5 separate regions of the Homo sapiens genome follow, and regions 1, 2, 4 and 5 are each linked to region 3. Evidence: fine-mapped expression QTL. A gene starts in region 3. Each other region holds a variant in brackets. All regions are shown on one strand. Distances are between the middles of the regions. Region 1 overlaps TIE1 (tyrosine kinase with immunoglobulin like and EGF like domains 1). Region 2 overlaps MED8 (mediator complex subunit 8). Region 3 holds the start of HYI (hydroxypyruvate isomerase (putative)). Region 4 overlaps SZT2 (SZT2 subunit of KICSTOR complex). Region 5 holds the start of ELOVL1 (ELOVL fatty acid elongase 1).

Region 1 (5,970 bases), 140 kb after region 3:
AATCTCTGAATGGATTTTTTTTTTTGAGATGGAGTCTCACTCACTCTGTCATCCAGGCTGGAGTGCAGTGGCGTGATATTGGCTCACTGCAACCTCTGCCATCCGGGTTCAAGCAGTTCTCCTGCCTCAGCCTCCCTAGTAGCTGGGATTACAGGCTCCTGCCACTGTGCCTGGCTAATTTTTGTAGCTTTAGTAGAGATGGGGTTTCACCAACTGGGCAGGCTGGTCTTGAACTCCTGACCTCATGATCCACCCGCCTCAGCCTCCCAAAGTGCTGGGATTACAGGCATGAGCCACCACGCCCGGCCTCTGAATGGATTTTTCAAAGGCATAGCAGAGACACTAGGCTTTCTATCACAAGGATCAGCCCTTGAGAGAGAAGAGGGTTTTCTTTCTTTTTTTATTTTTTATTTGAAATGCCAAAGCTTAGCTCTAAATATCAAGAGTCCAGGCCTGGAAGGCCAAGGACAGAGTTCAGATCCTAAGTGACGACAATGAAGAAGCCCTCAGAGGAGACAGGACCTGCGGATGGGCGGCTAGAATGTGACAGGATAAAGTGACAGTGGGTGCCCTCCCACACCCCACCTCTAAGCAGGGGCCTGAGGGACAGAAGGGTGTGGGCTACAGGAGGACAGACAACTCGGGCAGGATTACAGGGAAGCCAGGAGGAGTGGAGGTTTGTGCTTCCTCTTTCAAGGAGCAGGCCAGCACAATTCTGGAGTGGTAGAAACAGTTGTCTAAGTGGGAAGGGGTTGTGGCAGCGGTCTGAGGGCCACAGAATATGCCTCCTTCCATAAGGTATAAGGAAGCCCCTACAGTTCTTTAGTTCTGTTTCTTTTTCTTTTTTAATTTTTTGAGACAGGGTCTTGCTCTATTGCCCAGGCTGGAGTGCAGTGGCAACATCTCGGCTCACTGCAACCTCCGCCTCCCGGGTTTAAGCAATTCTCCTGCCTCAGCCTCCCGAGTAGCTGGGATTACAGGCATGCACCACCACGCCTGGCTAATTTTTGTATTTTTAGTAGAGACAAGGTTTCACCATGTTGGCCAGGCTGGTCTCAAACTCCTGACCTCAGGCGATCCACCCGCCTCAGCCTCCCAAAATGCTAGGATTACAGGTGCAAGTCACTGTGCCCAGCCCCTTTCTTAAGTCTCCAAAAGGAGGCCCTGGGATTTGCAAGAATGAAGGTTAGGATGAGGAGCTCACAGCATGACTGGCCTACTGGCAGGTGGCCACAGCAGGGCTAAGAACATCAGCCAAAGATGTGTGCAGACAGAGGCTGGCTCCCGAGCCCAGGAAGGCCTGCAAGGACAAAAGCCAGCATGAACCCCAAGTGCCCTTCCATTTGATCACCTTGCTATCTAGGCCTAGATAACCGCTAGGGAGAAATAAAAGAGGGGAGAGGAAAATCTCCAATTGACGGAGCCCAAAACTGGAATGTCCATTGTGAAATATGGTCATCACGGAATTCTTTTGAAATGGGAATATTAAATATTTCACCACTAATATAAATGGGCTCATGAGCTGAATTCAGTTTTAGAGAAATAAAGAAAATTATATTTTGTACCCTTGAACATTGTTGAGTGTAATCTTATACCTGCAACATAAACACACACACACACACACACACAAGGTGTACAAGGTATTGTGTGTACACAGGTAGAAACATAAACACGGGCTGCAAGCATGCACCCAGGGGCGGGGCGGGTCACTGACCGAGCCTGACTGGTAGGTGAAGGTGCGTCTCCGATGCAGGCAGCTTCTGCGGATGCACACCAGGGTTAAAAGGGCAGCCAGGATGGTGAGGCAGGTGGCAGACACGGAGCCCACCACCGCCAGGATCAGCTGCTGATCCAGGCCCTCTTCAGCTGCCCGGCTCTCTTGGACTGGGCCCTCAGCCTGCAGCCCTGGACACAGTGAGAGGGGCAGATTGTGGGGACACCTGGGTCAGGGAACCCAGAGGCCACCATGGGGTTACACAGAGGGAGAGGTGAAAGATCCCAGTGCCAGGACTGTCAGGAAATCACTTGGGCCACATGAAGGAAGGGATGAGGGGTGTCAGAGGGGCGACATGATTTTCCCAGCCCTGGGACAGTGGATCATGAGAATGGAAGGCTGAGTCCCCAGGACTGGGGCTGACTCTTTGTCAGGAGGGGCCTGGGATGCCCTAGCTCCACAGTAGGGGGTGATGTGGAAGGAGAGCGTGCTGAGCTCTCCCCGCTCAGAGCCCGGGGGGTCCTGTGGGCCCTGCCCTCTCACCGTTGCCCAGGGTGGACTCTTCTACTGTGTTGCTCCAGTCCCCGAGCCCCTGAATGCTGGCCCGCATGCGGAAGAGGTAGCGCGTGCTGGCGTTGAGGCCACGGATGATGGTGCTTGTCTCCTCAGGCCTGTCCACGTCTATCCACAGTGGGTCTCCTGCACCCCCAGCCACCTGCACCTCCACAACGTACTTGGATATTGGCCCAGGCAGAGCCTCCGGGTGCTTCCATGTCAGCTGGATCTCGGAGTCTGAGAGGGCCTGGGCGTGGAGGTGTCGGGGGGCTGGAGGCCCTGGGGAGATGGTGGGGGAAGGCAAGGCTCAGATAGGACCGGGCTATGTAGCTGTGGGGCTGGACACATCTGCTCTAGCTGTGCTCCCTCCTCTGTGGGTCCAAGCACAGGGGCCACCCTGCCAACTTCCTCCTCCCCACCAGACTGAATTCCTCTCCATTCCCCCAGGCCACTTTCACCCTCAAGCTTCTGCTTCTCCTTGTACTTCTTGTATCCCAAGTCCTCTCCACATCCGCCCATGCCCTGTGTTCCGCAAGTCTCATGCCCTCCCATGACCCTGGTTCTCGCCATGAACCCTGACCTCCCCATGCTCTCCCCACATGCTCCTGGTGATCTGTGTCCTCCTGGTACCCTGGATCTTCCCCAAGTCCCATGTCCCCGCTGGGGTCACGTCTGCCTAATACCCTATGTGTGTCCTGTGTCCTCTCCATGTCCATTAATCTCCTACAGCCTCCCGTGTCTCCTAGGTCTCATGTGTCCCTGTGTCCCACGTCCTCCCCCAACCCCCAGCTATCCTTGCGCCTTGCACATACCACTGGGGGGCAGAAGCACGTGTGCAGGGGGCGAGGCCGGGCCCAGGAGGGTGCAGTGGTAGAGCTGCACATCCAGCTGGTAGTGGGTGCCAGGCGTGAGTCCCGTCAGGAGGGCAGTGCGGGCCTGGGGGGATGAGACGTTCTCCCGCCGCTCCTGCCCCCGTGTCCCGTCCCACAGGCGCAGCAGGAAACCGTCGCCCACCAGTGGCCCGGGCACCAAGGGCAAGGACCAGCTCACTCGCAGCCGGTCAGTGCCTTCCACATGCCAGCCCTCCAACCACGGCTGCAACAAAGGCTCTGGGGCCAGAGGTCAGGGGTCAGAACTGTCCAGTAGGTACTTGGGGCTGGACAGGACAATGATCCCCAGTGAACAAGGAAGAACAACCTCCAGTGGGAAAGGCAGGGGTCCCTGGGGTC[G/A]ACGGGAAAGTAACCCTTGGGGGGACAGGAAGGGATGACTCTTGGCCTCTCACCAGGACAGTCTGTGGTCATGAGGGTGGGAGGCCCCCAGGCCCCCTCTCCTCCTTCCCCTGGCCGGCTCAGCTGCACACGAACACTGTATCCTGTCTTTGGCCTCAGGTTCATTAACGTCACGTTCTCACTGGGGTCCACTGGGCGTGGGGTGTAAAGCACACATTATTCAGCCCCCACCTCTTCTAGAAGCTGCCATGCTCCCTTCAGCCCCCTCGCACCATTTGCCCTCCCTCTCCTGCTCACTGTATCCCTTCACTATTACCCAACACCTCTGTCCTGCCCCAGCTCTCTCCCTACTCACCCACAATGGTCGACCAGTCCATGGTACTGTCCTGGGGCCGGTAGTGCAGGCGGACAGTGGAGATGGGTCCATCCCCAGAGAACGAGACCAGCGGGGAGACCACAAGCTGGCGGCTCTGCTTGGTCAGGAGCCGAGGTGCAGCCAGGGGCACGGGGGGCACTGCCAGGAGACTCAGGGTAAGGCATGGGCACACAGCCTATCCAGTCCACTTCTGCATCTTTGTTTCAAGCTGGGGACCCTCTGGGCTTGAGGGACACCAAGTTCAACAGATGACCATAGTGGCCAGGGCCCAGGGAGGACAGAGTTCAGGCCCCTGGGTAGCTTGGGGCACAAGGATTAAGCAATAAAGGCATGAGGGTGTCCCAAAAGATGGTAGATGAGGAAGTGACATGGCCAGACATGGTTTGGGGGTGCACTCTTCCCATGCAGTGTGGGGGTAGACAGAAGGGGCCGAAACCCAGGTCAGGGAGACTACCTGGGCATCATCCTGCTCTCTGCCCCTGCCCTCATTCACCACTCTCTTATTAAAAAAAAAAAATGGCACTGGCACTGAAGCACCTGCTCCCCGCCACACGCTTCATAGCATGACCTCTAATTCTCACAGCCACCTTTCTGTCAGGGCACATTACCCTGCATTATGAAAACACTGAGACTCAGAGACACCGAATAACTTGCCTAAGGACACACAACTAGAAGGAGATACAGCCATGTGTTGAACTAGGTCTGTCTGCGCAGGCCGCCTCAGATCTATCCATTCTACTCCAAAACAGCCTTCTTGTTCCTGCCCCACTTCCTCACCCCATGATCGCTGCTCCTATTCTGGCCTCAACTTTTTCTCTCCAGATTATTGCATTAGTGCTTTTAACAGGTTCCCTTGACTCTTACAAATGTTTACCAGATTGGCTTTTTGAGAGGAAAGGAAGGAAGGAAAGAGGGAGGGAGCGAGGGAGGAAAAGGATGCCGCGCTGTAAGCTGAGGGAGTGTCAGGCAGCAATGAGCATGTCAGGAGGGCAGTGCTGATTTGCGGGGAGATGAAGGTCCATTTTGGGTGCAGAGAAGCCCTTGGTGCCTTTGGCTCACGCAGGGGATTAGATGTCCAGGAAGTGGCTGGATATAAAATGGGCCTCCGAATCATACAGCAGCTACTTTCCACACCAACTTCAAAACCAGACTTCCAGAGTAGATGCCCCACTTCATGGAGTCCCCACCAAATGATCTGGAGTCAGAAGAGGGGTCCTGGCTGCAGATCATATGTGAGAGCTGCCAGAGAACTATCAAAATCTAGGGACTAGGTGACATTTTAAATAATAACAATAATTATCGACATACATTGAGCACACACCCTGTATCGGGCACTGTGCTAAATGCTTAAATACATCATCAAATTTAATCTTTGTAACAACCCCATCAAGTGCTAGCTATCCCCATTTCACAAAGAGAGAAACAAAGTAAGAGAGGTTAAGTAGTTTCCTTAAGGTGATGGGGCAAGGAATTTGTGGAGAGAGGATTCAAGCCCAGGTTGTCTGGCTCCTAAGCCTGGGCACAGTGAGAAGAGAAAGGCGGAAGGTGAGGCTTGATGGCAGAGAGTCATGCATAGTCACGGGATAGGGAGATGGCGAGGACCTGGGAGGCAGAGTGTGGCAACGAGAAAGCAGAAGGTGAGAGAGGGGGCTTACATGGGGTGGCAGGAGCAGAGGGACAGCAGGGTCAGGGGGTGGCAGGGGTGTGAATGGTTAAGACTTAGGGTGCTGGAGAAGCTGGAGAAGGCGAAGGAGGCCTTAGAGCAGGTGGGGGTGCTCTGGTCTGAGTAATCTTGGGCACTGGGAGGTCCCTCCTTATTTACCTGGAAGATTTCTAGGCATGCACCACTTCTAGGAAGCCAAGCTGGTCACCCTCTGAGCTCCATAGCCCCATATGCTCCCCTGGGCTAGCACTGAGTGTCTGTGGGGTGACTCAGAGATGGGAGGCAGCATCCCAGAGCAGAGTTAAAGGTATACTTGTCTGTGTGTGACGGTTGGTGGGGGACAGCATGGCTGGGCAGGAGGAAGGGCGGGGCTGGAGAGTGTCCCCAGTTTCTGGGGCACGGGATGTCCTTTCCAGATGGGTCTAAGCTGTAC
Region 2 (5,970 bases), 72 kb after region 3:
TATGCTTATTTTGTGCTGCCAGAAACTGTAGCAACCTCTGTGTTCTTAGAGGCACACTGTTTTTGCAGGCCCTCCTGCCTGGGTTTCATTCTGGCTATCCCTCTAAGGCGCAAGGTGAAGAAGCTTCTGGGCCAGGAAGGAAAAAAAAATGCCCACCTGCAGCTCTGGTGAAGCTTGGGCCTGCTCTCCTTTCCATCCTCTAAGGAGCCAACTTGGCTTTTACCTGTCAAATAGTCATAAAGTCCCCTATCCTTTACCCCACCTTATACACACGAGGCTTTCTCAGGAAGTGGCTCTGCCAGGCAGGACTATGTGGGAAAGGGTTTTTCCTTAGCACACGAAAAAGCCCCTTCCCCTGGATTCATGTTTCTTATTTTGGAGGGAGAAGGGAATTGCACTTCACACTGCCATCAGGGTTTAGTTGACCTCATAATGGTGCCCACTTTCTCGACTTTGGCCAGGATTTCCTTCAAAGAAAACGACTTTCCTTCATTTCCCTAAGCCTGTGGCCCAAATGGTGGACCAGAATGATGGTGGGAGGGGGCAACCCCCAGTAGCTTTGCCTGCTTTTATAAAGTTGAACAAATTGAATTTAGACATTCAGGCTAACCTGCCTTTCTTAGTACTCCTTTGTTGGCATGGGCAGGGGTTGAGTCAGCAGAAGTGGACCAAAGGATTCCTCTGAATAAAGTTATTTAAATTGATGTTCACTGGCTCAGGGTTGTCTGACAGTAATTTATGAGAGCACTACATAGGGATCAGAGGGGCAGTTTCAAGAGTGCTGCAAGGCAGTTCTAATTTGTTCTCCATAAAAAAGTTTCCGTATCTTTAATTAGCTTTGATCTAAAAATCCTGAAACTTCCCTCCTGCTCATACCTTCCAGCTGCCTTTTTTCTGTTCTGTCACACACTGGTACTTTGGCATTTGTTCAGTGCCAAACAAAGTTCTGCCAGGCTGTGGCAGCAAAGGACTGGAAAAGTGGTCCCAGATGTCACATCTGTTACCATTCCATCAAGGTGAGGAATGGTATCCACAAAGCTCACTGACCACAATACATAGCAGTAGGGGAGTCTGGTCACCAGCTCTAAGGCAATGCCAGACCTTTCCCCCACTTAAACTGTTCCGGCTCATCAGCCCACTCAGGTGTTATCTTCTCACCTCTTCCCTTCCCACTGGAAATGTCAGTATTAACTGGCATATTGGGTAGAGTTTGAGCTGTGCTTCTCTGAAATTCCTGGAGCATCTTTTGGTGACTATTGTCCTTTACTCCACCAAAAGATTCCCTCCTATTGAATGGCACCAACCCCAAGTTTTTTTGTGTCCCAGGCAAATACTGACTTCATCCCCACCATACTATTAAAATGGATTCCTTGTCATCCAAGAATGGAAATATCCTCTTGCCCCAACAGGAACATATGCAGGATGTCACCTACATCTTGTTCCCCTAAGCAAACACTCCTTCCTCTAGAGGGACTCCTCTACATTCATCACCGTAGGAGCACATGCTGTCGTTTTTATCCCCCATCCTCAAATCATCTGGAGTACACAAATCTCAGTAGTGTCTCCCACTTTGGGGTCCATACAGCCTATTAAATGCCTCAATAGAGAGTATGTATCTCCCACCCCTAACATACTCATTCCCTCAGGAGGGAATACATATACAGTTTTCCTTTGAAGAAGGGGACATGACCTATTTACTGGCTCAGATTTAGGATTTGCAAAAGGTGACTATTGGCCTACTCTGGTAACATTCCTCTGTTTTTGACTGTCCTGTTTTGCTTGGAGATCGTGCTTTCTCCTATTCTTGGGTCCCCTGGAGAAAGAGATTAGGCCATTGTCTCCTAGGTTTGTGTCTAGGATGGAGAAAGAAGCAGCAGCTGTGAAACGTCAAGAGCTTACTACAGGACAGAGTTCATCCTGCTGAAGGCGGAAGCTTATCCAATCAATGTCAGCATAAGGCCCATTGCCTAGGATCTCTCCCTCTCCAGCTCTGCCCTGAGCCTGGGATTCAGTCATTGCTGAACCTCTCTTTTGCTCATTGTGCCAGTCACCCCATTCTGTTCCCCTTCTGGTGTTTATTGCTGCCCTACTTAGCTGGTGTACCTCATTCAACCCTGTCGTTTTTTGGGAAACAGCCAAGATAGATAGGTTGTAGCCAAGTGCTCCTTAGAACTCCATAATGGGTCCCAGCATTAGGATTGAGCTGGAGGGGGTGTAATTGCCCACCTCCTGTTGTGCTGCCACAGAGAAGAAGCTGAACTCTGCAGGAATGCCCCAGTGCAAGGCTGGTCCCTTTTCCCACCCCCCTCTCACCTCCCCCAGGCAGCTGGAAACAACCTCTCCCTTTGTCTGAGCTTCTTGTACAGAATAATCCTCCTTATGGACAATGTATTCTCTGTGCCCTGTGGACACAGGAGCTGTGTAAGCTGATCCCAGCACCAGGCAGGACGGAGGCTGAGTCCTTCCAAACGCCCACCCTGGGTCAGCTCCTGATTACTGTCCAGATGAACTACGAAGGAGTGTACATTCTCTTCCATCTGCCTTTCCTATCTGCTCCAGAATTAGGGGAATAGCCTACTGAAGTTTAGCATTGGGCCAGGAGTAGGAACAGGGGATGTGGTCCTTTTCTGTTCAGTCTTGAGGGTTCACAGTGCCTGCTTATGGAGGCTCGATGTGGCTCTTGCCTGGAAACCTCAAACACATGGGGACTAACCCTTGGAAAGGGCTTGCCACTGTGCAGATGGGGCTTTATGATTGGAACAGAAGGCAAACTCCAACGCATCTGATGGGACCATGGTGCCCCATCACTTCAGCATGTGTTTTGTCCCACAAGACAAAGTTCCTTTCTTCTTCCCTTTAACTTCTCTTTTTTTTTGAGCTCCATGTGTCACTGAGGCAGCTCTTGGGTTCCTGTTGTGGTCTCTCAATGAGTCACATGCCATTTGGACATGGCAGCTTCCCTAAGTACATCGTGGACAAGGCATCTCACTTCCCTAAGCCTCAGTTTTCTCACTTGGTGATCCCAGTGATCCTTTTTAGGTCTAAAGTCTGTGGCAATGATTTTCAAACCCATTTATCCCCAGGCATTTTGTTTTGTTTTGTTTTCCTTGGTGCATGACTGTTACATAAATAGGCCAAAATTTTCCTAGATAAGCCCCCAAGTCCCTCAGACTCCTATAAACTGTTCCTGAAGTTCCCTCGCTGTCACCTACACCTTAACATACCAACACCCTTGTAGACCACAACCTTGAAACTGTT[T/C]TCTAAAACATCTTTCTCTAAGTGAAGATTCATCAAAGAGATGGTAAGTTACCACAAAGTTATCACAAGTTACAAGTTCTGACATACCTTGTGTGTTAGAAGTCGCCCTCCCCCTCACACATCTCTCTCTCCTTGGGCAAGATACATGTACCAAAGAGACTCCTCCAGTATAGGCAATAAATTATACTTCTTCCACATGAAGATAACCTTTCCTACTGAATCAAATATAAGTGCCTTGGGATGCTCGTCTTCCTATGTTTTCTCTGCCATTCCACTGCTTTCCCTAATTCTCACCCTAATTTCCCTAGTTTGTGGTCATTTTGATTCTTCATCTTTTCTTGCCCACATTCCCTACGTAGATATCCTTTGTTCATTTTTTTTTTTTTTTTTGAGACAGGGTCTCACTCTGTCATCCAGGCTTGAGTGCAGTGGCACAATCACCTCTCACTGTGATCCTGCAACTCAGGTGGTCCTCTAGGCTCAAGTGATCCTCCCACCTCTCAGCCTCCCAAGTAGCTGGGACCACAGGCATGTGCCACCATGCCCAGCTAATTTTTAAATTATTATTATTTTTAATGGAGACAGGGTCTCTATGTTGCCCTGGCTGGTCTCAAACTCCTGAGCTCAAGCGATCCTCCCACCTCAGCCTCCCAAAGTGCTGGGATTACAGGTGTGAGCCACCACACCCAGTCTATCCTTCATTCTTTTTGCCAGTTTCTCTGGGCTACATTTCATGGCCTTAGATAGTGCCATTTTAGTGTCTCTTCCATGTTAAAAGATCCTTCTTAACCCTACATCCCCTCTCACTGACTCACTCGCGCCATGCTCTTGAAACAAAGTGCTTAGAATCACTGTTTCTTTTACCTCCCATTCACTTTTCAACCCCTGTGTTTGGGCTTCTACTTCCACCACTCCTCAGAAACTCAGAGATCACTGTTGACCTAATGGCTAAATCCAGAGTTTTTTCAATCCTCATAGTAATGTATCTGCAGCATTTAATGCTGACCATTTCCTTTAGTCTCTTTCTCCCCCATGGCTTCTATGGCACATGCTCTCCTTGTTCATCCTCCTCTCTGGCCATTCCTTCTCTGCAGCTTTTGGACTTTTATACTTCTTCCTGCTTCTTAAATGTTATTCTCTAGGACTTGTCCTTAACCCCCTTTTCTTCTTCTTCTACCTGCTTTCTGTGACCACCACTTTTATGTGCATAATTTAAGCGAGTTTTATTTTCAGCTCAGACCTCTTTGCTGAGCTGCAGATTCCTGATGGATATCTCTACCTGTATGATCCACAGCTGGTTGAATGTCCAAATCCAGTTATTCTAGCCTACACACCTGTTTCTCTTCTAAGCCAGGAATATGGAAACCATTCTAAATTATTCTCCCTCTGGGTCCCCAACCCCCTCATACCTAATCAGATACTAAATCCTACCAATTCTGTCTCCCCAGTGTCCATCCACCCTGTCCTACAGTTTAGGCTCTAGGCCTCTCTTACTAAAAGTATTGTTCAGACTCCATATCTCTAGCCATGCCCACTCTAACTCATCTTCCAAAAGGCTACAGATAGGTCTTTCTAAATTGCAGATCTGATCACATTACTCCCCTGATTAAAATCCTTTATCTCCAGTCCTGCCCACTTTAACTTGTCTTCCAAAAGGCTGCCAGATAGGTCTTTCTGAACTGCAGATCTGATCACATTATTCCGTTGATTAAAAGCCTTTTGATAGTTTACTCCCCATGTAGGGTGGGTGTGCCAGACATACTGAAAATCACAAGATAAAATCTTCCTGGAATGTTCATTTTAAGGGTAATTTAAAACAGAATACACATTTAACATGTATTGTTATTTTATTATTTTGAGACATGGTCTGTCTCACTGTTACCCAGACTAGAGTGCAGTGGCGCGATCTTGGCTCACTGCAACCTCCGCCTCTCAGGCTCAAGCGATCCTCCCACTTCAGCCTCCCAAGTAGCTGGGACTACAGACACTCGCTACCATACCTGGCTAATTTTTGTATTTTTGGTAGAGATGGGGGCATATGGACAACATACCTGGTGGGTGGGTTGGTAGGGGTGGGTGTGCCAGGCATACTGAAAATTACAAGGTAAAATCATCCTGGAATGTTCATTTTACTTAAGAGTAATTTAAAACAGAGAACACACATTTAGCATGCATTATTATTTTATTTTGAGACACGGTCTCACTGCGTCATACAGGTTAGAGTGCAGTGGTGCGATCTTGGCTCACTGCAACCTCCATCTCCCAGCTCAAGTGATCCTCCCACCTCAGCCCCCAAGTGGCTGTGACTACAGGCGTGCGCCACCATACCAGGCTAATTTTTTAATTTTTGGTAGAGATTGCTTTTGCCACATTGCCCAAGCTGGTCTCAAACTCCTGAGCTCAAGTGATCCTCCTGCCTCAGCCTCCCAACATGCTGGGATTATAGGCATGAGCCACCACACCCAGCCAGCATGCATGCATTATTAAGAAAAAATAGTCTTCAAAGAATTCCTACTAGTCTGAACAGCTTCAGACTAAGCCACCAGATTCCCTAGGGATATTTATTTACTCTTTTTGGCCATTACATTTACTTCATTGGAAAAACTTAAAAAATAGCTCAGATTTTCTGGAAAGGCAAGTAAGATTCTGTGTGATGCAGCCCCCTGCCTCCTTCTTATTGTCATGCCACCCACTCAATTCCCAAGCCATCAA
Region 3 (5,000 bases):
ACATCACTTTACTTCTTTCCTGGTACACTTGTGCAAAACTTTCTTCAGGGGATACACCTGGGAAAGGAACTGTCAGATCATAGGCATATTAGCTTTAAGAGACAATGCCAAATTGTTTTCCAAGGAGGTTATAGTGATTTACACTCCTGTTGGCAGTTGTTCCAAATCCTATCCAATATTTGATAATGTGTTTTTTATTTTTGCCAATGTGGAAGGCATAAAATAGAATTTCATTGAGGTTTTGATTTGCATTTCACATGAGTTGTAATATGTTTTACTGCATTGCCAAATGTTATCCAATGATCAAATGAGACTCTGAACTCTGTACTAAAGTTTTTGCCATTATCCATGCAACTATTTACAAGTTGTTGTTACTTTAAAATCACACCTGTGCAAATTATTTGGTTAAAAGTCAAATACGTACCTGTGAAGTGTGCACAATAAAGCAAAAAAAAAAGGCAAATGCAAAGAATCAAAACTTGTGATAACTTAGTGTCATGCCTGTGTTGCAAGGTGGGATAAGACATAGTCAAAGGTGAATAAAGCAAATAATTTTCATGGACATTGCACTCCTTATATATTTATTTGAGCATATTATGTGAAGGTGGAAGGTGTTGTAAGGGAATTAAGGGGAAAGTGAGTCACCTATGTCTAGTTTATGTATAATCTTTACTGCCCTAAGGCATGTCCAAGGAAAAAAGGGGTGGACAATCGGGAGTTGGACACATTTTGTTTCTGACGCAGAGCTCAGCAGCTGTCAACATCATAAATAGAATTTGCATACTCGGAGATCAACAGTGAGGTGGTAATAAAGGAATTACTTCCTCTAGATGTTACTCTTTGTTGTCAATTTTGGATTGCAAACACACTAAAGTTGGGACTGATTACAATGTTAAGCTTAGTGAGGTCTTGATTGGACGAGAAACACGTTCCAAGACAAGGCAAAGGTCCTAGTGTAAAACCAGCTGCAAAAGAGCATGAAATCAGGTGATCAGTGTCAGCTGGCAGCAGTCTGTTCTTGGAGGCAGAGCTGAAGAAACAGAACCTGCCAAGAATTTGGGTTCACCACGGGATCAGGCTGGATCCCTGGTGTCTGAGCTGGCCTCATTTGAGATGGAGTTGAGTGTTGACAGAACAATCAGTGGGAGCTGGGTGTTCCTAATGTTGCACTTTAAGCTTCTCTGTCAAAGTTAGCACAGACGATAGATCAAGATGACGTTTACTCATGAATTGTTGGGATATAAATTTATATTTTTCAAAGGAAATTTAAGATATCAACAACTTAAATATGTTCCTATTTTTGACCATGTAATTCTACCCATAAGAACCTGCCCAATCAGTTGGGTTATTGTAGATGAAAGTAAAATCATTCAAATTATCTCAAGAAACATTAAGAGGCTATACAGAGACAGAAACCCAGGAAAGTCTAAGCATCCCAGCCTTAAGTGCACAGACCTGGGGGCAGCTATGGGTTTGGGCACCCTTGGGATGACATGGGTTTCTCAGGGTGCTACCTCTATTCACAGGACTTGGTTCCCCTCCTTTCCGCTCTAGCTTTTCTTTACCATAGGACTGTCTTATTTCGTTTCTACAGCCCAGTCACCTTCTGGCAACACCACCTGTTGACTCTCAGCATTTCCTTGTTTGAACTCTTGATTGGTTAAATTACCTTTCCAAACGACGCAAGTAAGAGGTTTTTGGCCAGTCTATGGATTGGCTGCCCTGGGATCAGATGACCTCCCTGGTCCAATCAGCTGAGGCTAAGGCTAAAAAGGGACAGCTCACCCATAGCTGCTCCAATGGGGCGGTTTCCCTTGCAAAAGACTAGCGGCGTGAACGGGCAAACACTGTGATGGACATCTCTAGAAAAAGACTCGGAAAAGAGTCAGAGATAGGGACTAAGAAGTGCCTGAAAGTGCGCTTGCAGCGCGCGTGCACACACACGATATCCAACCACAAAGTACAATAATGACTTGCTGCTTAGGTGTGCGACAATGAGCAGCGAAGGCACTGACTTTGAAGGCTATTGGAAAACACGAGGAAATGCTCACAAAATAATATTCCATGAAAAAGAGCTATAAAACAGCATATACCGAATGATCAGAATTTCCAAAGAAAAAAATTGCATATTTTAAAATTTGGACGGGAAAGCCAACAGGCTAGTGGTGTGATAACTGGCGGTATAAAAGTGCTTCTTTATTTGGTCATACAGCTTTCAAATGTTGCTTAACGAACAGATAGCATTTTTATAATCAGAGGAAAGACTCAGTATTAAAGTGCGCGTCCCATCATTGCAACCGGGCCCTCGGGCAGCCAGCTCTCTCTTGCTTCGCGTCCGGCTCTCAGGCCCTGGAGCTCGGCCTCCCTACCTTCTCCAGGCGCGGGTCCTGCTCCTTTTCCGGCCGCCCTCGCTCCGCCCCTTCGCCTCTCCCCGTGATCCCTCTCTCGCTAACCGTAGGCGCTTTTCGTGAAGGCCCGGGTTTTTACAGCACTTCGCTTTTCTAACCACGAACAGTGCTCGTTCGTTCGCAGGGCCAGCAAGGAGAGCCCCGCCCCCGCCCGCCGCCCGCCGCCCGCCGCCCGCCGCCTTTGGATCCCGCGGACTCCGCCCGGCCCGGCCTCCCCAGGCATGGCGCCGCTGCGCTTCTCCGCCAATCTGTCCTGGCTATTCCCCGAGCTCTCCGGCCTCCCCGCGCGGGTGCGGGCCGCGGGCAGCTCGGGCTTCGAGGCCGTCGAGGTGGCCTGGCCGTACGCGGAGACGCCTGAGGCGCTGGCGCGCGCCGCGCGAGAAGCGGGGCTGCGGCTTGTACTGATCAACACGCCCCCGGGTGCGTCGCGGGCCGGGAGGGCTGGGAGGGCTGGGGGGTGCCGGGGCGCGGGCAGGGGAGTGTCCGAGCCGGGGGCTGAGGCCCGTTCTCTCTGCAGGAGACCAAGAGAAGGGGGAAATGGGGCTGGGGGCCGTCCCCGGGAGACAGGCGGCCTTCCGAGAGGGACTGGAGCAGGCCGTGCGGTATGCCAAAGCCCTGGGCTGTCCCAGGTACCCCGCTCCACCCCACCCCCACCCCTGTGACCCATGACCCTGATGCAGGTTCAGGGAGTCGAGGACGCCAGATCTGAGACGCTCAGAAGTCTGAGCCCACTGGTTTATCTCTGCCTCTGCGGTCCTGGTCCTTTGTAAATTGCCTTTTGTATTTTATCTGTCTTATGCCACTCTGTTTGCCACTCTTTCATGCTCACCCCATGCTGGGATCCCATGCTGGGAGCTCAGTCTGCCTAGGCAGATAGGAGAGTAAATATATACAGTGATGCATTTGAGGACAGGCCTATTCCAGGAAGCTGTGGGAGCAGGGTAGGCACCTAACCCTGTCTGGATCAGAGAAAGCTGCTTACAGGTAGTGATGCTTGGACTGTCTTCAAGGAGTGGGCATTGCTTGATGGGCAGGAAGTTGAGTGTTCCTTGCAAGGGTGCTGTGGCAAGAGGAGGCCTGGTGTATTTGGCAGCGTTCCTGAGGCTGGACATGTATGTAGCCTGTTGGGATGGGGAGGCCTGGAATGTCTGCTTGGAGCTGGATGTGGCTAAGATCAGGGGATGATGGGAGGAGGTGGACGGCTCAAAGTGGGGCTGATTCAAATGTCAAATCCTGCAGAGGCCAAACAGGCTCAGAAGGAACTGGCAAGAGGGGATCACTACTGGTCAATGGTGGGGGCAGAAAACAGATGGGAAAAGGCTAAGTAGATGCGAGGAGAGGAAGTAGAGACAGCAGCATGGAATACCTGAGAAGGGCAAGCAAAGGTCAGGACAATTTTTAAAGGTGAGAATTTAGCAGGTTACAGGTTGCGGAGAAGGACCGAGGGAAGGAAAGGTTTTGGAAAGTACTGGAGGCAGGAGGCGGTGGGTGGACACTGAGATGTCTGGGAAAGGGCTTGCCCCTCAGCCATCACTGAAGTGTCTCTGAAAGTGCTGGGATACCTGGGCATCGTGACCCAGGTGCCATGGACTGGAGACCTGGGGAGACGGACGAGGGCTGGCACAGTCAGGGAATCCTGGAAGAGGTGCAGAGAGAGCCAAGGGAGGCAAGGCCTCCAGTCCATCTTCCCCACAGGATCCACCTGATGGCTGGCCGAGTACCCCAGGGAGCTGATCGAATAGCAGTCAAGGCTGAGATGGAGGCCGTTTTTCTGGAGAACCTGAGGCATGCAGCTGGGGTTTTGGCTCAGGTGAGAAAGGTGGAAACACACACGTACTTACATGTCTCTGTGGGTGTGCGGAGAAGGGGGTGCACAGTGGGGACAGCACGTGAGGCTGCCAGCCTAGGTCAGAGGAACAGGTGAGGGCCTTGACCAGTGACTGACTGATGGGGGACAAACTTGGGAAGGAGCTCTATTCACAGCACCCGACATGCTGCTAGGAGGACCTCGTGGGACTGCTGGAGCCCATCAACACCCGCATCACTGACCCCCAGTACTTCCTGGACACGCCCCAGCAGGGTACGACCCCAGCCCTGTCTCTCCTTCTGTCCCTTTTGATTCCTGTGCTCTTGAGGCTCACGGTCCCCTCCCTGGCTTCTCTTACAGCGGCAGCCATCTTACAGAAGGTAGGAAGACCCAACCTCCAATTACAAATGGTAAGTGGAAGGGGGTACTTCGCAGATCGGAAGGAGGGCGGGGCCTGCGGGGTCTCGGAATGTAGTATCCTCTTCCCTAGGACATATTCCACTGGCAGATCATGGATGGGAACCTGACAGGAAACATCCGGGAGTTCCTGCCCATTGTTGGTGAGAGGACCTTCCTTTGCCCTCCCACCCTTTCAATCCCCACATCTGTCCTTCAGGCCCTGGCAGGAGCCTGGACCCCACATTTGTCCACATCTGTCCCCAGGGCATGTGCAGGTGGCACAGGTCCCAGGCCGAGGGGAGCCCAGCAGCCCCGGAGAGCTGAATTTCCCCTATCTGTTTCAACTGCTGGAAGATGAAGGCTACAAAGGCTTCGTGGGCTGTGAG
Region 4 (5,970 bases), 48 kb after region 3:
AAAACTGAGACAACTCAAGTGGCCAAGTAGGGGCTGGCTAAACATATGGTAAGATATGATGAAACAGTAAGTTAACAGGACATTAAAAATCACATTTTCAAAGAATATTTAGTGACACACAAGAATGCCCATACTATATGTTAAAAAAATAAAAAAAAGGCAGGACAGGCTAAGCACAGCAGCTCATGCCTGTAATCCCAGTACTTTGGGAGGCTGAGGTGGGAGGATCACTTGAAGTCAAGAGTTTGAGACCAGCCTGGACAACATAACAAGATCCTGTCTCTACAAAAAAATTTAAAACAATTAGTCAGGTATGGTGGCATGCACCTGTAGTCCTAGCTACTTGGCAGGCTGAGGTGGGAGATCACTTAAGCCCAGAAGTTGAAGGTTACATTGAGCTATGATCATGCCTCTGCACTCCAGCCTGGGCAACAGAGTGAGACCCTGTCTCTTAAACAAAACAAAAAACAGGACATAAAATCACGTGTCTAGAATGAGCCTCTTGATTCTCCCTTTCTCTTTGGGTAAAGAGATGGAGGTGAGGGAGGATAAAGACACACTCACAAAATTAGAAGAAAGTTCCATAAAATGTTAGAATTTAAGCCAGGAGTGGTGGCTCACGCCTGTAATCCCAGCACTTTGGGAGGCCGAGGCGGGCAGATCACAAGGTCAGGAGATCAAGACCATCCTGGCCAACACTGTGAAACCCCGTCTCTACTAAAAATACAAAAAATTAGCCGGGCGTGGTGGCGGGCGCCTGTAGTCCCAGCTACTCGGGAGGCTGAGGCAGGAGAATCACCTGAACCCAGGAGGTGGAGGTTGCAGTGAACCCAGATCATGCCACTGCACTCCAGCCTGGGTAACAGAGCAAGATTCTGTCTCAAAAAAAAAAAAAAAAAAAAAAAGGTTAGAATTTAATACGATACCCAGAAACAACTACTGTTGTTTGCACAACTCCTGTTGTTTCTGGGTATTGTATTATAGATGAGTTTTGTTTTTTCTTTATATTTTAATGTATTTTTCAAATCTCTGTGGACATGTATTATATATGTGAATTAACTTTTTTCTTTTGAGACAGGTTCTCACTCTGTGGCCCAGGCTAGTCTCAAACTCCTGGCCTCAAATAATTCTTTCACCTCAGCCTCCCAAGTAGCTGGGATTACAGGCACGCACTGCTGTGCTGTGATTTAACAGGATATATCTTGTTTTTTTTTTTGGAGACAGAGTCTCACTCTGTTTCTCAGGTTGGAGTACAGTGGCGTGATCTTGGCTCATGGCAACCTCTGCCTCCCAGGTTCAAGCAATTTTCATGACTCGGCCTCCCAAGCAGCGGGGATTACAGATATGCACCATCACGCCCAGCTAATTTTTTTGTTGTTGTTGTTGTATTTTTAGTAGACAGGGTTTTGCCACATTGGCCAGGCTGGTCTCAAACGCTTGGCCTCATGTGATTCACCTGCCTTGGCTTCCCAAAGTGCTAGGATTACAGGCATGAGCCACTGCGCCCAGCCAGGATACATCTTGAGGGAGCCACAGAGAAAATGAAAAGGCTGGCTCAGGGCGGCCAAGTGGCCCTGGGGCTTAACTGATGAAATCCTCTCCTTCCCTATAGCTGCTGTCCTTATTCAGGCTTCCTCCTCTCTCCCATGCTACAATAATCTTCGCCTATTCTCCCATCCAGACTTTGTCCCCAAATCCATCCTCCATATTAGCCACAAAATACTGTGATCTTCCCAATGTAGACATGTGATCCTGTTACTGTCTGTTTAAAATTTTCAGTAGTTCTCCGCTACCTATGGCTAATTATTTTAATAGCTAACATTTGCACATTCTGTATGTGGCAAGCACAGTTCTAAGTGCTTGACATGTATTAATTCAATCACCATATGATATAAGCAATGTTAATATCCCCTTTGGAAAAAGGTCACAGATGCACAGAAAGGTTAAGTAACTTGCTCAAGGACACACAACCAGTAAGTGGTACTGCCAGGAAGCAAACACAGGCAATGTGATTCCAGATCCAGTGCTCTTATCCTCCACACTGAACTCCCCCATAGAATAAAGCACAAAGTCCTTAGTGTCACATTCATGGCCTTTCATAACCAGCTCCCACTTATGTCTACAGTCTCCTCTTTACCATCCCTTTCCACATTCAAATTTTACTCTGTTGACACTGAATAATATGTAGTTCCCTAAAACACCTGTGATTGAGAGTACAGGTTCATAGTACCATGTATTTGCTTTTGCTGGTCCCTCTGTCAGAAAAGTCCATTTCCCCTTCTTTGAATGGTTAACCTCAATTCTTTCTTCAAAACTCAGTTCAAATGCTGCTTTGGGCCAGGCACAGTAGCTCATGCCTGTAATCCCAGCACTTTGGGAGGCTGAGGCAGGTGGATCACTTGAGGTCAGAAGTTCGAGGGCAGCCTGGCCAACATGGTGAAACCCTGTCTCTACCAAAAAAAACAAAAAAAACAAAAATTAGCCGGGTGTGGTAGTGGGCACCTGTAATCCCAGCTACTTGAAAGGCTGAGGCAGGAGAATTGCTTGAACCCAGGAGGTGGAGGGTGCAGTGAGCCAAGGTTGCACCACTGCACTCTAGCCCGGGCAACAGAGCAAGACTCTGTCTCAAAAACATGAAAAACAAATGCTGCTTTGTCTGAAAGACTTCTCTATTGTGGCCCCATGCTTGGTTGGGTGCTCCCTCTTGGTGCTCCCATAGCACCTGAGTCATCTTATCGGTGCCCTTATCACATTCAACTACAATTACCTCCCTTTAATATTTATCTCCCCCACTAAAATCTCAACTCTTCACATCAGGAGAAAGACAAGGT[C/T]TGATTCATCTGTGTCTTCAGGACCTGCTCAGGCCTGGTATAGCTCAGGCTTCATTAAGTGTTTGCCAACCTGAACCAAGTTTTGAGTGATTACCTAACATCCATGCTCTCCCTGCCTTGGCTATCAGTGCCTGCAAAACCTGGCCCCCATCTGGGGATGCAGCCCACAACTGATAGTCCTAACGGCTATACTAGGAAAGCACTTTAAACTAGGGCAGAGGGCTGGCAATCCCTGCCCTGGGATCCAGGTATGCACCAATTTTGTTGCTGTATGTTTCAGACCCTTAGATCATGTTCCCAATATCTTATCTCTCAAATCCAGTTTGATAGCTAAGGTGACAATGCAGCCATCACGGACAGTTTCAGGGAAAGCCTTTACCAATGAGTTAAGGGTAGTTAAAAGCAGATGAGGGGAAACTGGGCCAATGCTTATCTAAGTCATAAACAGATATTCCAGTAACAGACTTGGCCATTCTCCAAAAGGAGTGTCTTGTGATAGCCTCCTTGAGTGCTGGATAAGCCCTGTAATTATCTGTGTGGTCAGCATTATAACCAACAGTTCACATGGCCCTCAAAAAAAAAATGACCCACACTGGGCACGGTGGCTCACGCCTGTAATCCTAGCACTTTGGGAGGCCGAGGCTGGCAGATCACCTGAGGTCGGGAGTTCAAGACCAGCCTGGCCAACATGGCAAAACCCCGTCTCTACTAAAAATAAATAAATAAATAAATAAGCTGGGCCTGGTGGTGAGTGCCTATCATCCCCGTTACTTGGGAGGCTGAGGCAGGAGAATCGCTTGAACCCAGGAGGCGGAGGTTGCAGTGAGCCAAGATTGTGCCATTGCACTCCAGCCTGGGCAAAAAGAGCGAAACTCCGTCTCAAAAAAAGACAACAACAAAAAATGACCCTCCTCTATCCTTGAAACCAATTACATTTCTGGGTTATGTGCTGTCTTTCAAAATCACAAAACTATTCCAAAAGACCATCTCCTGAGGGTACTAGCCAGAGCCAGCGCATCAGCAAACCATCCAACAGAACTAAAGGAGAAGAGGGGAATGGAGAAAACAGACATCCAGTGGTCAGAATCAAAGAGATTTACAGGAGCAGTGAAAAAGGCAGGTGTCCAATCAACACCAACTGACCCGAAGTCTATAGGAAAGCCCTTTAAGTCCAGAGGAACTGGTTCTTCTCAAGGAGAGAGAGACTCATGAGGATGACTAGAAAACAGGTTCAAGAAGCCAGCAGAGCTCGGGACTTTGGGGACAAACAGCAGAGACAGGATAAGGACTTGGTCAGAGGACTAATAGAAATTTGGTCTGAGGGTACAAACTTGGAGAGATGATGCAATACCTGGTGGGACTGCAGTCCAATGATGGAGGAGTAGGCCTGGATAGTTACATAGATCTCAGGCTGGAAGTCGATGCAAGATCCAGGCACTCGGAAGGGCCGAAGCAGCCCGCCTAAGCAGCGGGACAGGGCATGGAAAACTTCATCAAACAAGATCTCCCCTGTGGAATCATCCTGAGGGCAGAGAAAGAGCACTCAAGGGGGTCCAAAGGCAGCCCTAACCAGAGGGCAGAAACATGCAGCTTCCATGGGTCAGTAGGACACTTAACTTATGGATGATCGCACACCCAAATACAGTGCCACACATGGAACAGTTTCTGGGGTGTTTTTTGGAAACAAAAACAACAAAACCAGGGTCTTGCTTTGTTGCCCACGCTAGAGCGCAGTGGCCTGATCCCGGCTCACTGTAGCCTCGACCTCCTGGGCTCAAGCAATCCTCCCACCTCAGCCTCCCGAGTAGCTAGGACAGGTGCATGCCAGCATGCCTGGCTAATTTTTGTATTTTTTATAGAGAGGGAGTTTTGCCATGTGGCCCAGGCTAGTCTCGAACTCCTGAGCTCGAGTAATCAGCCCGCCTTGGCTTCCCAAAGCACTGGGATTGTAGGCATGAGTCACCACAGCTGGCCCAGTGCTCTTTTTAAACACCCATCATTCCTTTATAAGCCTGTCTTCTCTCCAAAATGGTAGGCTGGGACCATTTTTCACTTCCCCACAGGCCTCTCCCTCTCCTCACACCCCACCCCATCCTTTCTTCCCACAGTCTCCCTTCAATCCTTTACCACAATGCCAGTAGATGGGCTAAGGTCCAACTCAATGACAAACCGATACTGCCAAGCCAGGAAGGTGACCCGGGTGGAAGGTACCAGGAGGAATGGCCTTGGGACCACTGGTTCATCTGGCTGCCACCCAGGGGGCAGGACACTGAGGACTTCCAATTCCTGTTCAGACTGAAGCTGAAAATTAGGATGGAAAGAAAAGGAAAGGATCAGCGAAGTATCCCTTTCTTCCCAGGACCTGCCTTCTATATCCCAAATGACACATCATTGGCTCTACCTCCCTCAATCTAACCGTATACTCTTCCTCTCACTCTCTGGAAAAATTATTTTTTAAAATTTCCATCATCTTGTAGGCAGTCCCTTGCCCTAACCAGACTTAAGAGTTAGTCTCCCACCCTGTCTGTTTCTAGCACTCTCCTAAAAAACAGATCCTTCTGGGCTGGCCCCTCACACCTTTCGTGTGTCTAAGCCTCACCAGCATCTCCTGGGGTGTGGCCTGCACAGTTTGGTGCAGATGACTGAGGAACCAAGCCAGGCGAACATTTCGGGAGATTCGATAATCCTTTTTCATTAACAGGAACACCTGCCCAGCTTCTTCCACCTGGGAACAAAGAGACATTAATACATCTTTAAAAAATGGCACCGAGTACCTGGAACACACAGATCACTGTCCAAATAATTTGCCCAAGGAACTCACCATCAATGAGAGGGAAAACAGCAGAAGTGAAAAGTTTACCCCAACCTCCATGCAAGGTGTTCCCAGGGAGTCAATTCTCAACTCTCTGTTCCTGTTTGCCCGATACAGACCTCCATATAGATGAAGTGACCTTTCCATATTGTTTCCACAAAGTTTATGTGAGTTTCACCTATAAACTATAAGCTTTTGAGGGCAGGGGCTGTGTCTGATTCTACTTTTGTGCCCCTGTGCTTGGCAAATTGCTACAAACAGAGCAAATACCAGGACAAGTCCCTAATACATTACACGAATGCCAGACAGTTACTCCTAACAAGTCTT
Region 5 (5,970 bases), 86 kb after region 3:
CTTTCTAATTCTTATTGTCCTCTCCACTTGACTCTGGTTCCCTTGGCCTCTCTTCCTTTCCCACGTCATCCCATTCACACTAACATTCATTCAACAAAGGTAGAGGGCCAACTGAGTACCAGATAACGGGCCAGATGCTGGAGATACAGAGATGACAAAACATGGCCCATGCTGAGAGGAGCTTATAGTTTTGCGATGCAGATAAGCATATAATTACAATTGTGGGAGCAAGAGGAGGGAGTGATTTACTGCCTAGGAGACCTGACTGTTCCTTGTGCTGAGCCAGGGGGCAAGGTTTGAGGGTTGAGGGGGGTATGAAAGATGCTGACATCCTCGGGGAATGGTTAAAGCACTGGGTGGGGCCCAGGAGAGTGTCACAGGTAGAATGAGAGGACAAGGCAGGGACCAGATCAGTTAGGACCTTAGTGTTGGAGCCTTTTAAACAGTGAATTCTGCCATTTCCTTTCAAGGATGGGTACTAATAGGCTGGGTCATATCTGTACTTTGGCTCAGACCTCTTACCTAAACTCTAGGACTAAACTTTCACATAGCTATATCCCACCATTTGTGGAGTTATTTATTTATTTATTTATTTATTTAGAGACAAGGTTTCTATCACTCAGACTGGAGTGCAGTGGCGCAGTCTTGGCTTACTGCAACCTCCACTTCCTGGGCTCAAGTCATCCTCCCACCTCAGCCTCCAGAGTAGCTGGGACTATAGGCATGCATCACCATGCCCAGCTGATTTTTTGTATTTTTTGTAGAGCCGGGGTCTCACGATGTTGCCCAGGCTCGAACTTGTGAGCTCAAGTGATCTGCCTGCCTCAGCCTTACAAAGTGCTAGGATTACAGGTGTGAGCCTCCATCCCCAGCCTATCCTACCATTTATGAACATCTTTTTTTTTTTTTTTTTTTTTTCTGGAGACGAGTCTTGCTCTGTTGCCCAGGCTGTAGTGCAGTGGCATGATCTCGGCTTACTGCACCCTCTGCCTCCCAGGTTCAAGCAATTCTCCTGCCTCAGCCTCCCAAGTAGCTGGGACAACAGGCGCACACCACCATGCCCAGCTAATTTTTTTTTAAATGTATTTTAGTAGAGATGGGGTTTCACTGTGTTGCCCAGGCTGGTCTCCGAATTCCCTTTTTTTTTTTTTTTTGAGACGGAGTCTTGCCCTGCACTCCAGGCTGGAGTGCAGTGGCTTGATCTCGGCTCACTGCAACCTCCGCCTCCCAGGTTCAAGCAATTCTTCTGCCTCAGCCTCCCGAGTAGCTGGGATTACAGGCTTGCGCCACCATGCCTGGCTAATTTTTGTATTTTCAGTAGAGACGGGGTTTCACCATGTTGGCCAGGCTGTTCTCAAACTCCTGACCTCAGGTGATCTGCCCGCCTCAGCCTCCCAAAGTGCTGGGATTACAGGCGTGAGCCAACGCACCCGGCCTTTTTTTTTTTTTTTTTTTTTTTTTTGAGACAGAGTCTTGCTCTATTGCTCAGGCTGGAGTGCAGTGGTGCGATCTCGGCTCACTGCAAGCTCTGCCTCCCGGGTTCACACCATTCTGTCTCAGTCTCCCGAGTAGCTGGGACTACAGACGCCCGCCACCACGCCCGGCTAATTTTTTGTATTTTTAGTAGAGATGGGGTTTCACCGTGTTAGCCAGGATGGTCTCGATCTCCTGACCTCGTGATCCGCCTGCCTTGGCCTCCCAAAGTGCTGGGATTACAGGCGTGAGCCACCGCGCCCGGCCTTTTTTTAAAAAAATGTGTTTATTTTCCTTGCGGAGCAGGGCTGCCCCATAAGCAGTGTGCCCAGAGTAGCCCAAATTCCCTAATTCTGTCCGCACTTACACCATCCAATCATACAAGCAGTTGTTAGATCGTTGTGTGCTACTGTTCCAGGGGCCGCTGGAGGTAGAAATTCCATTTCACTAAAATCTAGTCTGTCCTTTGCCCCCACTAGTTGAGTCCAGTTAGTGAGTGTGGAGGTGGGGGCTGGAGGTGTAGAAGAGATAAATAAATATATAGAGAGCCAGTCCAGCTGTCTGGAGGACATTGTCCGCCTCCTCCAATCCCATCAGTTGCCACATCTTCTTTGGTCAGGCTGGCTTTCTCACCTGGTCTCCTTTCTGTGCCCTCCTCACACTGGCTGCCAAAGTGATTCAGCCAGATAGACTGCAAGCCCCGTGAGTGCACGGACGGTGGGTGGTCCATAAACGTCTGATGAACTAATGATACAAGCTTGAATATAGTCTCCTAAAAAAATCTTTAGTTTCTCCTCTGCTTCTAGAATAAAAATCAGATCGCCCCATTTGGCCTTCAAGACCTACTACATTCAGCCACAGTCAGCTTCATTTCCCTTTTTTCCTTTCACTACCTCGAAGGCCAGATTAGCCAGTGATTCACTATGCTTGCCCCGGGCCACTTGTATCCTCTCACCTCCGTTCCAGGCAGCCCTCGCAGCAGATCCTAACGCTTAGGGCTCCTCCAAGTGTACAGGCTCGTGAGGCTTCCCTCCCGCTAAGAC[C/T]AGTGCGCCCTCAGCACACGCAGTGTGGTCTCGCCCGCCGCTCTGCGCTCGCCCTGCAGGAGAGGGAGCTCTTTGAAGGCAAGGCCGAACCTCCCCCGAGCCCTGAGCTGGGCCTGCCGCCACAGATGTGCAGTCCTGCCGGGGAGCAGTCACCCGGGGACAGGGCCGGGCCCCGGGCTGCACGTCGGGAAGAGACAGCGTGCTCCTGAGGTGGCCAGGCCGCTGCAACTGGCCAGGGCGGGCCCGGGCGGCGAGGGAAGGGGTGGGAAGCCCGGGCCGCGGCGCTTCCTGCTGGGACCCGGCGGCACGCCCCTGCCCCCGCCCCGGCCGAGCCTGCGCTGCCGGCCTCCGGCCCTGCCGGCCGCCCAATCAGCGGGCGCCCCCCGCGCGGCCCGCCCCTCCCCCTCTGGTGACAGAAAGTCGGCCCAGCAGATGAGGAAGTGGCAGGCAGGCAGGCTGGCCCCGGGGACTTCTCTCTGGCCCTGCTCCCTCCGAGCGCTCCGCCGTTGCCCGCCTGGCCCCTACGGGTGAGTCTGGACCTTCCACGGACTCTCCACGTGCCGGCGCCCCCTGCCTGGCCAGCCCGGCCCAGCCCGGCCCAGCCCTGCCCTGCCCTGCCCAGGCTGTGGGCGAGGGTGTTCCCGGGGCCAGTGGGTGGGAGGTCCCAGCTCCCTGGGGCCGGGCCTCGCCAGCACCCTCCCTCCCCCACACCCCCGTCTCTGGCCCCCATTTGCCTACACCCGGGCCTTCCTCCACCACCCCTGCATTTACCTCTCTCCCTCCTCCTCTCCCCTCCCTCCCCCCGCTACCCTAACTTTGCCAGGCACCTTTTCCCTTCCATCCATCTTAAAGGAAGGAAGGGACGGGCTGAGTTCCCCGACGAGAGACACACCCAGATTTTCCTGCAGCTTGGGGAGAGGTCCTCCCAGGAGCCTTGGTCCCTCCTGGCCTGCCGGGTGTGTGGGTTGATATTGGGGGCTGGTGGTTGAGAGATAACAGGCTGGCTGGCTCCCATGTGTCAGGGAGGAACCTGTGTTGGCGCCCTCGCCCCGGCCTGGGCCCTGCCGGCGATGGGCGGCCAGCAAGCCCGATGGTGGGGGAGCAAGTAAGGAGGGGATCCGAGCGTGGCCAGGCAGCGCGCACACGTGTGTGAGTGGCCCCGCGGGTGAGCCCGTGCGTGTGCCTGGGCGGTGGCCGAGCTGCGTGAGGGCCGGGAGCCATGCGTGTCAGCCCACGGAGGTGTTGCGTGGTGTGTCAGGCAGGAGACGTGTGTGCCAGCCCTCGGCGTGGCACCTTCGCTGTTGGGGGTGGAGAGCTAGGTGAGAGGTGGGTGTGGACCGCAGGCTTGGGGCCTGACCACGGTGGGCCTAAAGAAGCCGGGCCTCCTGGAGGTGAGGGGTGTGCGGGGCAGGGAGGTGTCAGAGGTGCGCCTCTTCACTTGGCATCTGCAGAGGTGCTTCTCTGGAAGCAGGGAGTCTGGGGCACCTGCTGCCCTGGGCCCTGCTCTGTTCCAAGAATGCCTTGTCCCTCAGGGACTGTCAGTACCATGCTCTCCTGGGTCTGGCCAGAGGCTTTTGTGTCCCTGGGAGCCTTCCCCCGACATTCCTTCAGGCCCTGAGGGGGAGGGGGCCTAGCCCAACGGGGCCCCTCCCTGAGGGAGGGGAAGATTCCTGCGACCTCCCCCACTCCCCAACCCCTTCACATGCCACTGGCTTCCCTGCCCTTCCCAGGAAGGGAAGAGTGATTGTACCCATTCTGAAGTAGGACAAACTGAGCAGTTATGGCCGGCTTAGGAGAGGATGCTGGGTGTGGATTTTCAGCAGTGCTTTGGGCCAGGGCTGGGGCTGGGGCTGGGGTCAGAGGAGGTTTCTGGCTCAGAATCTAGGACCTTAGCTCATCAGGCTGGTCCCACGTGGGTGGGTGGGTGGCGAGTCTGGGGCTTTACTTGGCTTTCCCAATCCTGGTGGGTCCTGCTCCCCCAGGCACTGACCTGTGGCCCGGACCCACCCTCCACCCCCTGCACAGTACAGCAGGGGCGGGCAGAGGGCGGGGCTGCTGCCAGATCTAGTCAGACAGGTGGAGCCGCCGGGGCAGGAGTCTCAAAGAGCCAGGCTCCAGGAGAGGAAGGGCTCTGCGAGAGGAGAGAGGAGAGCGCTGGAGAGGAGAGGCTGGAGGTGAGAGTCCCAGGAAAGGCAGAGGAGAATCGTAGGGACATAAGTGTCCCAGCACAGGCAAGGAGGAATCCGAGGATAAGGTTCTGGAGGGACAGAAGGGCCCAGAGAGGTGAGAGTCCTGGCAGGGACAGGAGGGACCCTGGGGAGAAGAGAGTTCAGGAAGGGTCCAGAGGGATGGGAAGAGGAGAGGGCAGGAGAGGAGAGATTGAAGGGGAGAATCCCTGGAGAGAAGAAAGACCCAGAGCTGGGGAGGTGAGGGACTCGGGTGAGGAAGGGAGACGGAGTTCAAGAGCTCCCTGTTGGTGAGAAGGTAAGATTCTCCAGTAAGAGACCTGGAATTGAGAGTTATCTTGTGGAGGAAGAGGGGAAGGGAGGCCAGGAAGTAAAACTGTGGAGAGGAGAGGAGAGTAAGGTGTGGAGAGGAAGGGTGGAACAGCTCTTCCCAGGCAAGCAGGATGTGTGGGGAGCAGATGCCTCAACCAAACTGCCTCCTCCCCCTAGTTCCCAGTAATTCCTTCCTTTCACTGTTCTGTCCTTTCTGCAATGAGGCATTGCAGGTGTCTTGTCTGGTTCTGTGTCTTATCTCTGTGGGATGGGGGTGTGCAGTGGGATCTGTCTGACATCCGCCCTCTGTACCTCCCCAGAGTCCTTAGCCAGGATGGAGGCTGTTGTGAACTTGTACCAAGAGGTGATGAAGCACGCAGGTAAGACGCTATCCACCAGCCCTTTCCTTCCTTCTTTCCCGGGATCCCTGGATCTACGGCTGTCTTCTAATGGAGAGTTCCTATGAAACCCTTGATCCTGTGACCTGACCTCATGTCTGTAGACCCTTCAAATGAAGACCCTTCGAACCCTGTGACTCTTCCTGATTCCTTTGACCCTTATTCATAGATCCCCGGATCCAGGGCTACCCTCTGATGGGGTCCCCCTTGCTAATGACCTCCATTCTCCTGACCTACGTGTACTTCGTTCTCTCACTTGGGCCTCGCATCATGGCTAATCGGAAGCCCTTCCAGCTCCGTGGCTTCATGATTGTCTACAACTTCTCACTGGTGGCACTCTCCCTCTACATTGTCTATGAGGTGGGCCCCTGGGATGCCGGGCTTTAATTTCTGTCAGCAGGATAAGGAGCAGGCCATAGAGCCAGAGCATGGCATTTCTCCTTTCCAGAGAGGTTCAGATCCATGTCCTCAGCTAGCGAAGGGGAGGGATGGCTGGGAAGGGAGAACTCTGGTGGTCTAATCCACATCCCTTCCCAGTTCCTGATGTCGGGCTGGCTG

What was found.
Region 1: its variant is fine-mapped to the expression of HYI in whole blood (TOPMed, PIP 0.90).
Region 2: its variant is fine-mapped to the expression of HYI in whole blood (TOPMed, PIP above 0.99).
Region 4: its variant is fine-mapped to the expression of HYI in whole blood (TOPMed, PIP above 0.99).
Region 5: its variant is fine-mapped to the expression of HYI in whole blood (INTERVAL, PIP above 0.99).

What each region holds. Positions count from the first base shown.
Region 1 is chr1:43,309,713-43,315,682 of GRCh38, reverse strand. TIE1 (tyrosine kinase with immunoglobulin like and EGF like domains 1) reads right to left here. Exons shown (of 23, transcript NM_005424.5): 10 at 3,854-4,012; 11 at 3,552-3,689; 12 at 3,082-3,378; 13 at 2,258-2,548; 14 at 1,715-1,905. Among named protein-coding and RNA genes, the nearest start is that of TIE1, 12 kb to the right of the region's middle. The variant G/A (reference allele first, on the strand shown) is at 3,499.
Region 2 is chr1:43,378,651-43,384,620 of GRCh38, reverse strand. It overlaps MED8 (mediator complex subunit 8), which reads left to right. Exons shown (of 7, transcript NM_201542.5): 7 at 1-704. It overlaps LOC112268225 (a long non-coding RNA gene), which reads right to left. Exons shown (of 2, transcript XR_007066049.1): 2 at 5,422-5,970. Among named protein-coding and RNA genes, the nearest start is that of MED8-AS1, 3.4 kb to the left of the region's middle. The variant T/C (reference allele first, on the strand shown) is at 3,259.
Region 3 is chr1:43,451,423-43,456,422 of GRCh38, reverse strand. HYI (hydroxypyruvate isomerase (putative)) reads left to right here and starts at 2,492. Exons shown (of 8, transcript NM_001190880.3): 1 at 2,492-2,828; 2 at 2,926-3,037; 3 at 4,104-4,218; 4 at 4,410-4,488; 5 at 4,576-4,625; 6 at 4,706-4,775; 7 at 4,879-5,000. The coding sequence starts at 2,630. It overlaps SZT2 (SZT2 subunit of KICSTOR complex), which reads right to left. Exons shown (of 72, transcript NM_001365999.1): 72 at 2,176-5,000. It overlaps HYI-AS1 (HYI antisense RNA 1), which reads right to left and starts at 2,496. Exons shown (of 2, transcript NR_174945.1): 1 at 2,370-2,496. RefSeq lists silencers at 2,456-2,755, 2,866-2,925 and enhancers at 3,716-4,602, 4,603-5,000.
Region 4 is chr1:43,402,763-43,408,732 of GRCh38, reverse strand. It overlaps SZT2 (SZT2 subunit of KICSTOR complex), which reads right to left. Exons shown (of 72, transcript NM_001365999.1): 2 at 5,431-5,556; 3 at 4,959-5,132; 4 at 4,183-4,353. Among named protein-coding and RNA genes, the nearest start is that of SZT2, 16 kb to the right of the region's middle. The variant C/T (reference allele first, on the strand shown) is at 2,832.
Region 5 is chr1:43,364,988-43,370,957 of GRCh38, reverse strand. ELOVL1 (ELOVL fatty acid elongase 1) reads left to right here and starts at 2,947. Exons shown (of 8, transcript NM_022821.4): 1 at 2,947-3,043; 2 at 5,335-5,394; 3 at 5,582-5,772; 4 at 5,950-5,970. The coding sequence starts at 5,349. It overlaps LOC112268225 (a long non-coding RNA gene), which reads right to left and starts at 2,746. Exons shown (of 2, transcript XR_007066049.1): 1 at 1-2,746. RefSeq lists silencers at 1,493-1,678, 2,618-3,297, 4,558-4,647 and enhancers at 2,098-2,177, 2,771-3,505, 3,506-4,240. The variant C/T (reference allele first, on the strand shown) is at 2,517.